Linked DNA regions of Homo sapiens: region 1 is linked to region 2. Evidence: fine-mapped expression QTL. A gene starts in region 2. The other region holds a variant in brackets. All regions are shown on one strand. Distances are from middle to middle. Region 1 overlaps SKAP1 (src kinase associated phosphoprotein 1). Region 2 holds the start of SNX11 (sorting nexin 11).

The links. PIP is the estimated chance that this variant, and not a neighbour inherited with it, causes the effect. A credible set is the group of variants that fine-mapping cannot tell apart.
Region 1: its variant is the best candidate, but not a certain one, in a credible set for the expression of SNX11 in whole blood (TOPMed, PIP 0.63).

What each region holds. Positions count from the first base shown.
Region 1 is chr17:48,163,655-48,166,670 of GRCh38, reverse strand. The region is part of intron 10 of SKAP1 (src kinase associated phosphoprotein 1); the gene reads left to right. Among named protein-coding and RNA genes, the nearest start is that of MIR1203, 8.7 kb to the right of the region's middle. The variant A/G (reference allele first, on the strand shown) is at 1,078.
Region 2 is chr17:48,106,545-48,109,044 of GRCh38, reverse strand. SNX11 (sorting nexin 11) reads right to left here and starts at 1,279. Exons shown (of 7, transcript NM_013323.3): 1 at 1,207-1,279. RefSeq lists a silencer at 1,114-1,273.

The sequences.
Region 1 (3,016 bases), 57 kb before region 2:
ACTCAATGCCAGGCCTTATTGACACGATCATTTTAGTAATCAAGAAAATGTAAATAACATGCTGGCCTGCCTTTAGCCACTTTTCCCTGATCACAGCCTGAATTCTGTCGCTACCCAGTGACTCCCAAACATAAGCTGAACTGTGGAAGGAACAGTCAGATTTTATTGTCCCTAAGGAAGGAGAAAGGCAGAGAGATGTCCTGGTCCTTTTTACCTTAAAACTTTGCTCGTCACACAGGCTAATTTTCAGCCATTGACTCTATCATCAGTAGCACCAACTTGGCCTCAGTTACAAGAGAAATGACTGTCACTAGTTGTAAAGAACCTGGCATGCAATGACAAATGCTTTGCAATAAATAGAAAAAAGAAACCAATACTTTTTTTTAACTTGTTCTGTTGCTATTCTTCTTATGACATTTTGGTTGCTTGGAGTTTAGCTTCCCTTACATAGGATAAAGAGAGTAAGATGCTGCTTTTTTTTCTCTAGAAAAAGCCCTTCTCAGCTCTGCTAGCAATTTAAATGCAGTGATCATACCCATTAGCTTCTCTATCATTGTAATTGTTGTTAATTGTTATAACTGTTTTAGTTATTAGTGGTGTCATTATTGCTCTAGGTCCTCTGTCTGTTTTATGCTGAATATATTAGTGCTTTGCTTTTGAATTACCAGGCTTTATTTAGTGCAGAGTTATGTTTTTCGGAGAGACATTGAGAAATGCTGGCATTAAGCTTTATTCTTTTGTTTTTCATTCCAAATGGACAGACTGGAAAAAAAATAATTAGATGGAATAATGTCCTTAAAATGAGAATTAGGATGTTTTGAATTAATTAAATGGTCAGAATGCTGCACCATTTCTGATTTCAGACGGCTGCCAGAGTAGTGTAAGCCTAAAGGAATCTAAATCCAGCCCATAGAGGCAAGCCTCACCCTTGGGCTCTCAGTTCCTCTCTCTGCTCTACAGAAATCAAAGTCGGCCGGGCACAGTGGTTCATGCCTGTAATCCCAACACTTTAGGAGACCGAGGTGGGCGGATCACCTGAGGTCGGGAGTTCAAGACCAGCATGACCAACATGGAGAA[A/G]CCCCGTCTCTACTAAAAATACAAAATTAGCTGGGCGTGGTGGCACGTGCCTGTAATCCCAGCTACCCGGGAGGCTGAGGCAGGAGAATCCCTTGAACCCAGGAGGCAGAGGTTGTGGTGAGCCGAGATCATGCCATTACACTCCACCCTGGGCAAAAGGAGCAAAACTTCGCCTCAAAAAAAAAAAAAAGAAAGAAAGAAAGAAAGAAAGAAAAGAAAAGAAAGCAAAGTCTCCTCATGCATTCTCTTGTTTATAGGATGAGTTGGGCAGGTTTAGGGAGAAGCTGGACTAGCCCTGCAGACTCTGGGCTTTTAAGCTCTTCCTGGTGCCAAGCTTCAGGAATGAAGCCCTCCTCCAACTTATCTCTTCCCCTCTTCAAGGTCTTTAACACCCACTTGGCCAGAAAAGCCTTTTCTGACCCCTCAAACTATGTTAGATTCCCTATTACACACAGCGTCCTCAACTTCTCCTTCACAGACATATCATAATCATAAATAAACATTTGTGTAACTGTTTTTTCCATGGTGCTTCCCCGACTAGAAGGTACCCTTGAGAGGAGGGCTCATGTGTGGCCAATGTGGGATTCCCAGTATCTAACACAGTCCCTGGCATTTAGTAGGTACTGTATACATGTCTGTTGGATGATGAGAATGAATTAGTGAAGTTGCATGCACACATACACATAAATGCATATCACATGTGTGTTAAACAGGAAGTCTGCAATATGGAGTCACCTTGCCCAGCTAAGGAATTATCCCTCACTGATTTCCTTAATAGAGAATACTTCTAGCTAGCTAGCAAGTTCAAACTTTTCCCAGTTTTTAGCCCTTCATTCTGCCTGTTTTTTTGGAGCTGTTCTACTTCTGACTGAAGTTCCCTATTCTTGGGCTGAGCTAAACCATCTCCTGGATTCCTGAACTCTGTCTTCTTTTGGCCTTTAATATCAAAGACCTTTTCTATCTTTATTTTTTTCCTGGAAGGCTTCTGTTTTTCTCCTAGCTTCTTGCTTTCCCTGTGATCTTTTGTGCTTTTAGAATAGATCTTTTTCCAGATGTTCTCCCAGGCCCATATATACCCAATGTCAAATCACTTTTTATGTATACACCAAAAAGGCACTCAATATTAGGACCTATCCCATATCCAGGCACACAGTAGGGAACCGTACTCCAAAGTGACTATCTGCTAGGCCAGAAAAGACCAAGATAACCTTGTTAGTCTCCTTACCACTTAGAAATATTGTTATGGTTTTAGAATCTATTTTTACAAAAATGGTTTTCTCTACCATATATAAATCCATGAAAAATATTGATGTTAATATTCTTTCATTCCTGAGTTTAGTCAAAATCTTGGGGTAATTAATCAACTCCATTAAAATGGAAAATTCATAATATATCCTCTGGGAAAACTACTTTCACTTTTCAGGGATTGATATTTCTCTATTATTTCATGTACTTAATATTTCCAAAAATGAATGCTTTGTCTATTCAATAACTAACATATTTCTCCCAAAGTATTTTTCTTCCAAACATATTATCAACTCTGTGGCAGAATGTTTTCACAGTAGTTATCTTGTTTGCTGCCCTCTGTTGTCTACTGCACACACAGACAATTTTATGTGTGAAGAAAACATGCCTGAATTTCTATATGGTTGACATTTTTACTTTTGTTTGCAATATCTGAGTTTTAACTAAATAGTTCTCTCCCTCCTCTGTTTTTGTACCCTTTAAGATTCCTACCAAAATTCTCTTCCAGAGACATATAGGGATTTTGTCCCTCCGTGCCTTTATTATTTAAATTGCTCGTAAGTCAGGAATAAGTAGAAAAAAAGCAAATATAGGGAGGGTGTCTGTGCCCCTACTGCCCACTTGCCCTATCCTCAGCCACCAATACTATCACTGCTCATGGGAGGGTAAAATGAATAAAGGGAAAGGTGGAAAT
Region 2 (2,500 bases):
ATGAGAATTGCTGGAACCCAGGAGGCGGAGTCTGCAATGAGCCAAGATCACACCACTGCACTCCAGCCTGGGCGACAGAGCAAGACCCTGTCTCAAAAAACAAACAAATAAACACTGGAACAAATACAAAAACCTAGACACCAAGTAGTAATTTCTAGCAACCACTCTTCTCCATTAGATTCCTCCCCACAGATACCACTCCTCAAAAGAAAAAGCTCAGTTCTGCCTCTGGAGAAGCAGCAGGAAGTTCCTAACTTTAGTTCTCTGATCTGGGAGATGGATCTGTACTTCATCCAAATAAGGCTAGAGTCAGTGACCATAGCTAGTTACATAACTTAGTGTTAACTACATTTTCTGGGCCCTTTCAACCACATCTGAAGTTTCCTTTACTTTCTTCACCTGTACCAGCACCAGTAGCTCTGGTGAGTACCCGATTGTTTGCTGTTTACAAAGTAGATTCATCGTAAAGCTTTCTAATATAGTAACAATGCAAGGCTTTAGTCTCACCATTTATTTTCTCTCCCATTTAAACAACTTCAAGAGACAGGTTAAGAAACAAATCAGGTGATAAAAGTAGATGGAACTACTGAGACTACCGTCCCTTCTTACTCAATCTTGAGCCTTTAGTGCCAGATGGCAGAAAGCAATTCAAAAAGCTCTCGCTCCAATTATAAATATCACAGGTACTAAACAGAGGAAGCTCCCAGTTCTGACCAAGCTCTGTGTGATCTCAACCAAGCAGTTATGCTCCATCTTTTTGTCCATCTCTAATCGTACGCCTTTCACTTGGAAGGTAAGTAACAAAGGCGACCACAATCTACCGCCAAGTCTCCCGTGTCCACGTAAAATACTCGCCATTGCCCCCAGTCTTAGCCATTTAAGTAAATGTCCCCAGAGTCTTTTACTACGGCCACTCTTTCTCCATTCTCAACAAACTAGGACCGAAAGGTCCACATGGTCCTTCTTTCTTTCCGATTAAGCTTGGGGGGTAGGAAGTGAAAGATACACTTTGAAGGTAAACTGAAAAGCCGGGTTTCCTTTCTTGGATCCCGAGCAAGCCCTTGCCTTAATCCCGGGTGGTAAGAGAGTCCCTCCCTAGGATGTAAAGCGATGCCACCATCCCGAGTGCCACTACTGACGCTCAAGCCCACGCCCCCTCACAGGAGAGCAGCACCCACTCCCCAGGCCCCGCCCACGCCCTCTCACCTGAGAACAGCACCAGCTCCCCACAGCGACACCGCCCGCGCCCCACCATATAGCCAGATCACGGCTTCTCCTTCCGGGTGAGTCGCCGGTGCCCCGGTGCACGACGGGAGACGCCCCAATCCCGGGTGCCCGGGACGCCCCGCCCCTACAGGCCCGGGCTCTGAGTGGGATTCCCGCTTCCGAATAGCGCGGCTCCGCTGGCCAAGGCCCCGGACTGGAGTCGGGATCCCCCCTCCACTCACTTGGGACGCCGGAGAGTGCACGCAGGTGCCGGGTGAGGGACGGCGAATGGATATCCAATCCGGGGCCGCGTTCCGCCCACTGTCAGGGGAAGCCAATCAGCGGCCAGGGGGCGTCAGCGACGGGCAGCCAGTGGGTCCCGGGAGCAGAGGGGTGTAAGGGGGTTGTTACTCTTGTTCTCGCTATGCGAGGGATAGTCTGCAGTGTGGGAGGTTCGGGGCTTTAGGAAGCCCACATCCCTGGATCCTCACTAAGTCCCGAGAGCCACCATTTGAACCTCGTAGTTTGCTGTTCCCCAGCGGAGCTATCAAGGGGACTCCGATTCAGATTCGTAAAGCCACGGACCGATTGTCAGAGTGAAAGTCAGACTCGAGAGGGTCCGGCGACTCAGATTGCTCACACCGAAACAAACTCGAAGCAATATCATGCAGCTAGGGAGCAAGAGAAAGCCGTTCAATGTGTTGGTGGTCTTTTAACAACTTATTTAAAGATAATTTCAGCAAGCCTAGCGCGGTGGCTCACGCCTGTAATCCCAATACTATTAGGGAGGCCGAGGCGGGAGGATCGCTTGAGGCCAGGCTTGAGACACGCCCTACCAACTTAGGGAGACCCTCGCCTCTGCAAAATATTTTAAAAATTAGCCGGGCATGGTGACACGCGCCTGTAGTCCCAGCTACTCGGGAGGCTGAGACAGGAGGATGGCTTGAACCCAGGGGTTCGAGGCTGCAGTGAGCCCTGATCACTGCAGAGCAAGACCCTGTCTGAAAAAAAGAGAGAGAGCTAAAAGGAAGAAAAGAGAGGAAAGAAAAGAAAGGGGCCGGGCACAGTGCCTCACGCCTGTACTTCCACCACTTTGGGAGGCGGAGGCGGGTGGATTACCTGAGGTCAGGAGTTCGAGACCAGCCTGGCCAACATGGTGAAACCCCGTCTCCACTAAAACTACAAAAATTAGCTGGGCGTGGTCATGGGCACCTGTAATCCCAGCTATTCAGGAGACTGACACAGGGGGATTGCTTGAACCCAGGAATCGGAGGTTGCAGTGAGACAAGATCGC